Linked DNA regions of Homo sapiens: region 1 is linked to region 2. Evidence: fine-mapped expression QTL. A gene starts in region 2. The other region holds a variant in brackets. All regions are shown on one strand. Distances are between the middles of the regions. Region 1 overlaps HRAT17 (heart tissue-associated transcript 17). Region 2 holds the start of HRAT17 (heart tissue-associated transcript 17).

Evidence for each region. PIP is the estimated chance that this variant, and not a neighbour inherited with it, causes the effect.
Region 1: its variant is the best candidate, but not a certain one, in a credible set for the expression of HRAT17 in left ventricle (GTEx, PIP 0.52).

The regions. Positions count from the first base shown.
Region 1 is chr7:112,968,992-112,973,402 of GRCh38, reverse strand. The region is part of intron 4 of HRAT17 (heart tissue-associated transcript 17); the gene reads left to right. Among named protein-coding and RNA genes, the nearest start is that of HRAT17, 24 kb to the left of the region's middle. The variant T/C (reference allele first, on the strand shown) is at 1,758.
Region 2 is chr7:112,993,760-112,998,170 of GRCh38, reverse strand. It overlaps HRAT17 (heart tissue-associated transcript 17), which reads left to right and starts at 2,528. Exons shown (of 6, transcript NR_110162.1): 1 at 2,528-2,603.

The DNA.
Region 1 (4,411 bases), 25 kb after region 2:
TACCAATTCAAATGTTAAGGGTCCATAAAGACCCTCATTTGACATGCCCAGAAATAATATTTACCAGCTATCTGGGCATCCCTTAGCCCAGTCAAGTTGACACATAAAATTAACCACCACAGTCTACAATATCCAAAAAGACATGTATCTTCTTCTTCCTCAAGGGCACTAAGTAAAGTCTTTCTTTAGTTGAAACATGTGAGTGGGCTAGGAATATTTTAGATAAACTAGTTCTTACACCTCAAGCTAGTCAGAAGCTGTTCTCCAGTGCAAGCAGTTGTAAGACTTTGAATGTATTCTGGTCAGAGTAAGCAGAATGTGAAAGTAAACACTTGAAAATTCTTACCCATGTTCCCCTTCTCCAAACTCCTGTAGCCTTTCCCTCTTTTGTAAACCAGTCTGTCTTCATATATATGTTAACATCATTAATTATATTCTAGTTCCTTTCACATTTAATCATATTTCAAACATATTTCTAGGCCTTATTCTTCCAAATTTGATGAATAAAATATACATAGATTTGATAATTTCATAAATTACATGAAGGTTTTAGTAATTTAACTCTTAAAATTTAACCTTATTTTTCTAGTTCTGAGATAATCTTGTGCTAGCCTTCGGTACACTACCTCTAAATCTCAGTGGGTTACACTAATTTTATCTGTACATGTCTAATATTATAAGCCTTTGTGAAAACTACAACTCGACAAAAATAAGGTCCTTAGGCAACTCCTATAACCATTATTCACAGACAGTCAAATCTACTCTTGTTGAAGTGGAAGATTTTTGCAAAAACTTGACATTGTCCAAACTAAGCAGCTTGTTTGGAGCCTGAAGTGTAGATACACAGTCATCATTAATTGAGAAGTCTTCTGAAATTTTTGTTGTTGTTGTTTAACTTTGACTTTCTAATCTTTAGAATTTTTTAATGACTCAGAGAGACATTATTTTCTGGGGCTTCAAATAAGGTAGCAAGCTTTTATAATATATTGGCTGTAAGCGCTATAAAGATAAGTTCTTTTAAAAACGCCCTACATCATTTCCCCAGAAGCCATACTTGATCTTCTTTCTCTCACAGCCCACATTCAAACCTCTTAGGAAATCCTGATGGCTCTGCCATCAAAATATATCCATAATCTGAATACTCCTCCCTCCCTACCCCGAGTGCTACCACTGGTCTAGATCCTTGTATTAGTCCGTTCTCAAGCTGCTAATAAAGACATACCCAAGACTGGGTAACTTAAAAAGGAAACAGGTTTCATTGACTCACAGTTCAGCATGGCTGGGGAACCCTCAGGAAATTTACGATCATGGCAGAAGGCAAAGGGGGAGCAAGGCTCTTTCTTCACAAGGAGGCAGGAAGGAGAAGTGCAAGCAGGAGAAATGCCAGATGCTTATAAAACCATCAGATCTTGCGAGACTCACTCATTATCATGAGAAAAGCATGAGGGGAACCGCCACCATGATTCAATTGCCCTTGACACATGGGGATTATGGGGATTACAATTGATGGTGAGATTTGTGTGGGGACACAGAGCAAAACTGTATCAACCCTCATGAATTACTACACCCTGAATTAATATAATTACCTCCCAAAAACTGCTTTGTTTTTATCCTTTCTTCCCTGTAGTCAACACAGAAACAAAAGAGATCATTTTCAAACATTGATTTGTTCTCTTCTGCTCAAAACTCTATAGTGGCTCCCTATTTCGGAGTAAAAGCAAAGATCCTTACAGTGGCCTACAAGGCTCTGCATGGTC[T/C]ACTCCTCCATCCCATCCCCTGCATTACCTCTCTGGTCTCTTTCCCTGTCTCACTCCACCTAAACACATAGGCCTCCTTGTTCTTCTTCAAATATATCAGCCACTTGGCCACTTAAGACATACACATTGGTTGTGTCATTCATCTGCAATTATCCTTTACCTCTTTCAAGTCTGTATTCAATATCATCTCTTCAATGGGGCTACATGACCGCCTGATTTAAAATGGCAACTTTATCCTCTCTCTGGCACTATTGATCTCCCTTATCCTGCTCTGTCATCTCTTTCTCATAACACATCATCTTCTAATAAACTAAATAATTAGTTTCTTTATTGTTGACCCACCATCTCTACAATATAAGCTTCTTGAGAGCAGATATTTATCTGTTTTGTGTGGTGATATATCCCAACTACCTAGAACAGTACCTGGCTCATAGCAAGTGTTCAATACATATTTATGAAATGAAAGGATGGATGAAAATGTTCCTATTATCAGCTAAACCAGTTATGAATTTAGAGTTCTTTTGCATGTAACAAAAACATGATTGCTGTGGTTTATACAGGAGTTATTTTTTCTCATGTAGACAGTACCAGATTGCTTATCTTTAGACCCCATCACCCTTAGTATGGGGTTCCTTCCTTAGGTCCTTATGAGGGCTGCTGTACTTACAGACACTGTCCACTAGCTGAGTCTGTGCCTTTTCTGGATTCTTAGTCTAATGACTTCTGATTACATGTCATTGGCCAGGACAGGAACAATGGCATTTATAGCTGCAAGGAAAATTGTGGAGTGTCTATATTTTTTAATGGACATGTTGCATCCCATAACAGAAGATTAGAATTAACACATGTAAATGCTTAGAAAAATACACAACATAGAATAAATGGAGCATGTACATGTTAGCCATTACCATCATCTTTGTCTTTTTTTTTAATTCTGAAAGTGTTCTGTGAATATTTAGCCAATGAGAAAATTATAATGACTACATTGAATTAATAACAATATACTAAAGCTTTTAATTTATAAATAAAAGAATGATTAAAGTAGTTAAAATTCATTTGCTGTAAAGAACAAAATTGACAATAAGATCTGAGAGTTTAATTTTATGTAAAATCTACACATTAAATGCTACTTTGCTTTGAATCAGGTTAAGTGCACACAGATAAAGTCATACTTATGTATGTATTCTCAAATATTACTGATGTATTTATATGCAAATGCCTGTTATGCATCAAGAATTGTTCTAGGAACTACTCTATATTCTGTGGCCAAAACAGTAAAACCAAAAATGTCTTTCCAGAGTTTACATTCTAATCATAATAATGGTATGGAATTTATATTTTAAAAAACTCTATCTATAATCCCAACTCTCCAAATAACTTTCTAAATTAATTTACCTAATTCCTGAATATTAGAAAACTTCTAAAATAAACAACTTATTTAAAAATATGTTCCCCTGAGTTTGAGGCTGCAGTGAGCCATGATCATGCCACTGCACTCCAGCCAAGGCAACAGAGCAAGGCCCTGTCAAAAAATAAATAAATAAATAAATAAATCCTCTGTATCGTAAGTCTTAGATAAGAATATCATGCAAAGTGTATTTTCTTTCTCCATGTTACAGGATAAGCAGTCTATTTCTTCCAAATTTTATAAATAACTAGAGTTTATTTTGTATATGTATAGTGTACTTGCACATGTACACTAATATTTCATTTTGTTTTATTTTTAGCCTTGGTGTGCTATTCTTAACAAATTTATTTTGTTTAATTCATGTCTGTAAACATTTTATGTGTAAAGAACCTATTGATCTAGACCTAGAGAAATCATTTATTTGTAAAATTATTTTGCAGAGTCACAAATATTAAATAACATTCCTTTAAGTTACTCACAAATATATAGGATGAGTTTAGGAGTGGGGAGAAATGGAAAAAGGTAATTACATTTAAAAACCCATCATTTGGAATGAGCTGTTAGCTGAAACCAATCTGAAACTATTTTATATCTTACGTTAGGTCAAGTCTAAAATAGGGAACAATCATTTGGGAAGGAAATAAGCAACACAACTCAGAAATCCTATGAGAGAATTTTCAATAAAAAATTTATTTCAAATTACAGTATTTCTGTATTGTGGTGGGAAATCATCCTTACTAAGGTTATTTCTGGCTGTCAGGGACTTGGGCTCACTTCCTAGACCCCACTTGTACCCCAGGCTCCCTGTGCATCACTCCTAACACAGCAACCTTGGGCTCAGTCCCTTCACTTCTGAAAATTGCTGTTCTCATTATAGACCTATTTGGTGGAGATTGAAGGAGCTGTCTCAGCCCTCTTTTCAGCTATCAACTAGTACTTGCAGTTTCTGCTCACTTTTTGTTTTCTTCCCAGTCTTTGCTCATGATAGAAGCAAAGAGGTCAAAAAACAGCTCAATCGAAAACCTAGAATAAGGCTAATAGCCCAATTAGATTATGTTGTCAGACTTACAGCTTGAAATGTCAGAAAGTCTGAAGAACTGGTTAACCTATTACCTTTTCCCCAAACTGTTCACAAAATTGCAGTGTTTCAATCACAGGTATAAATCCTGGATCTCTCAGACAAAGAGTTCAACCACAGTAACAATGCTTTAAATAACCACCGTTTTTTTTTTTCTGTTTTATTTAA
Region 2 (4,411 bases):
CTGACACACTTCCGTGGATACTGATAGAAGAGCCTCCTGAATCAGAAACAAAGGACCATTCATTACTCAGAGCAATAACAGTAGCCACAGTAACATTTGCAATTGCACCAGAGCCCCAATTCCCATAGGGTTGTGTTGCAAGAGTGGAACCCTGAGCTTAGGGGATCCAAATCTTTTGTAACAGGCAGTAAGAGTATCTGCCTATTGCTCCAGAGGGAGATACTATCTCTATGTCCCAAAGCCATAAGCAACCCTATCCTTTCTCTTGAAAGAGACAACATCTCTATCTTCCAGATATTTTCTCTTAGCAAACATCCTTGAAAAGATGGTGGAGAACAAAGGGTACTCAGTGCCTGCTTTGCAAGATGTGCAGAAACCCATAGATAATTGCTGCTTAACAATACTAAGCAGTGATTTCTGAGGGAGAGTTTAGAGGAAAGAGAGAATCCTCTCCTGGTGAGTTTTCTGGTGCTAAGGGAGAAGAGTCCCCTTCATGCTGGGTAGGAGAGTTTGGGGAGAGTGTCCAGTTACTTGTGCCCTCAAGGAAGAAAATTTCACCTCCTATTCTTCCTTTTTTTTTCTGTCCCAATCTCTCAATTTCTTGGAACTTGTTATAGTTGAGGTCTTGGCATTCGAAGACTTGACTTGAAAATCAATTGCCTTAAACATAATTTATAATGGGTGTCAGATTCCCTGACTATTCCTCTCACTGTCTCCCCAAAGGCCCTATTAACCCATAATGTATCTGATTTATAGAACATTCAGTTTCAAATGCATTGTAAATTAAATAAAGTTGGCAGGCTAGCTGGAGACCATAACCACCACTTACGGAGTGTCTCATGTGGGAAAATGTGTTCTTATTAATGAATCTATTTAACTAATGGCTTTATGAACCATGGCTTTTATTAAATTGCATCTTTTTATTTAATAATCACATTTTTAGAATGTTATTAGAGGAGGTTTACTTTTGCAACTGTCTATGAAAGATGGCACTATATTCTGCAGCAAAAAAAAAAAAAAAAAAAAAGTCATCCCAAGTCAAAAGCCTGGAGAAAAAGTAAAAAGTATCTAAAAGGGGATTAAAGCTAAGGGTGTATAAAACAGCATGCTCTCAGATTATCATAATTCTCTCCCTAGAGAAGCATGATGGCCAGAAAACAAGTAGTAAAAGAAAAAAATTAACAATATTTCACAAAACTCTGAAAAATTAGTTTGTAATATGTCAGGAAGGAAAAAAAACAGAATTATCTCTCTCACTAGAAAAGAATTCTAGTTTTGAGAACATCGCTGAGTATTCCCAGTTTACATTCAAATTCTCTTATGAAATGGGGGCTCTTGTTATACAATAGAACATTACCATTTGTCATTACCATAAAAATGTTCTCTGGTATTCCACTTTCAAGTTTGTTTTTGCTTAATTTTGCCCTATTTCACATAGCTGTAAAAATCTTTTACTATGTCTTTTCTTATCTGTTTTCCCATTTATAACTTATCGAACATTTTTAGCATTTCAGCATTTTTATATCATACTTATTTTTAGAATTTATGCTCCACCTTTTTTTGCTGGTTGAAAATTATCCAGTTAGTTATATTTTTCCCATATGGAGAGACAGAAAGCAACTAGCAAAGCCAAGTGGAATCTTTCCATGTTGTAGTGAAAGGGGCAATCACTATTTCTGTGCTCTAACAGATTGCTGACACTTTTTGTGTATCAAAGTGAGGTTTTCGGTAACTCTGCCACCTTTAACTGTCCTTTATTTTGCTGTTTTCATGAGATCTTATTTCATGTTGATCTTGGGGGAGAATACCTCCTGGTTCTTCTGTAATTGTGGTTCTCCATCTCTTATCTATCTTATTGTTGAATTTGTGACTTATTTTCCATATATCTAGGGCATATTCTTGAAATGTTTCAAAATGTTATTATTATAAAATATCAAGTTACTAAATTACTCTAGGAAGTAATTTCAAATATTATAATAAAGCTCATATTAATTAATACCCAAAACATAAAAATCTAAGTGAACATTATCTTCTTCAACATAACTGCCTTAAGAATTTCTACTTTAGTCCATTGATCTTGCCATCAATTAAAAACACTTTCAGGGATTCCTCTTAAAGGTTTGCATTTAGAACCTGCTGCTTTGTTTCAAATGAACCCAGTGGCAGCAAATCCTAATTTTTTAAGTGTAGACTTTAATTTTTGGATAGAGATAATTGTCATCAGTAGTCTGGTGAATTGATTAATGATCCAACTAGAGGACTATTTGGAAGAAAAAGTATCTGATTATAGGGAATCAGAGTAGTAGTCCTGCCTGACTAAACTGGCTCTGAAGACGACTTCAGAAAGAACATCCAGAAAGTTTTGAGCCTTCTCAGGGGCCATTGGCTGCCCACATGCCTCTGGCTCCTTCACAAATCCCTGGTTCAGCTGGTGGTTGTGATGCGTCACATAGTTCCTGGCATGCCATTGTCCTGAATTCACCTACTAATTTTACCCTCAGAGAAAGAGAGAGTCTTTGGAGAGTTGTGAGGAGATAAGTGACATAAACTGGCATGTTCTGAAAGAATCACTCTGGATGCTGTGTGGAGAAAACACTGAAAAGGTAAGAGTAGAAAATGGAGTAGATACCAGGAGTCTGATTAGGAAACTACTGCAATAATCCAGGCAAGAGATGATGGTGGCTTGACAAAGAGAGAAAATGGAAGTGGTGGGAGTGGTTGAATTCTGAACATATTTTGAAGATACAGCCAACAAATTTCCCAACCTTTGTCTAGACTGGGTCTCAACCAGAAGCAATTTTACCCCTCAAGGGGCATTTAGCAATGTGTGCAGGTATTTTTGATTATCAAAACGAAACATGCTACAGTCGTCTAGTGGGTAGAGACCAGGGTTGCTGCCAAGCATCCTATATTGCACAGAACAGCCTCTCACAACAAGATTTATCTGGTCCAAAATGTCAATTATGCTGCTGAGACTGAAAAACTGTGCTCAAGATGCACTTTGGGCATCCTACTGTATGTTTAGGAGTGCTATAAATTTTTTTCCCAGTACATTTTTTATTTTTTTCTGTTTTCCTTTTTTTAACTGATAAATAAAATTGTATATATTTATGGTATACAACATGATGTTCTGAACTATGTATACCTTGTGGAATGGCTAAATAAAGCTAATTAACATATGCGTCACCTCGCATACTTATCATTTTTTGGTGAGAACTTATCTATTCCCTCAGCAATTTTCAATTATACATTATTATTGACTATAGTCATCATGCTTAACAATAGATCTCCAGCACTTACTCATCCTGTCTAACTTTGGCCAATATCTCCCCATTCCCACACCACCACTCCCCACAGACATTGGCAACTATCATTCTACTCTGCTTCTGTGTGCTCAACATTTTTTACTTCACACAAAAGTGAGATCACACAGTATTTGTAATTCTATGCCTGACTTATTTACTTAACATAATGTCCTCCAGGCTCATCTACGTTGTCAAAAATGGCAGGATTTTCTTCTTTTTAAAGGCTGAATAGTATTCTAATGTGTATCTATGTATATAAAGGGACAAAATTAGAAAGAATATATATAACACTTTATTTGCCAATGGACATTTAGGTTGATTCCATATTTTGGCTATTGTGAATAATGCTACAACGTATTCTATGAATACATTGTATAGTCTATGAATACATTGTAGCATTATTCTACACATTCTATTCAATGTATTCTTTATCACAGTATTCTATTGTGTATCTATATAAAGCCAAAATTAGAAAGAATATATATATAACACTTTATCTGCTGATGGACATTTAGGTTGATTCCATATTTTGGCTATTGTGAATAATGCTGCAATGAACATAGGAGTGCAGATATTGCTTCAGCATACTGACTTGATTTTCTTTGGATATATACTCAGAAGTGAAATTGCTGGATCATATGGTAGTTCTATTTTTAACTTTTTGAGGAACCACCATACTGTTTTCCATATTGGCTGTACTAATTTACATTCCTACCAACAGCGTACAAGAGCTCCCTTTTCTCCACATTTATCTTTCATATTTTTTATCATAGCCATTCTGACAGGTACATAAGGTAATATTTCTTTGTGGATTTTATTTGCATTTCCTTATTGATAGTGATGTTGAACATTTTTTCATTTACTTGTTGGCCATTTGCATATATTCTTGTTTTGTTTTGTTTTGTTTTGTGTTTTGTTTTGTTTTGTTTTTTGAGATGGAGTCTCGCTCTGTCACCCAGGCTGGAGTGCAGTGGTGCAATCTCCACTCACTGCAAGCTCTGCCTTCCAGGTTCACGCCATTCTCCTGCCTCAGCCTCCTGAGTAGCTGGGACTACAGGCGCCCACCACCACACCTGGCTAATGTTTTTTTTTTTTTTTCAGTAGAG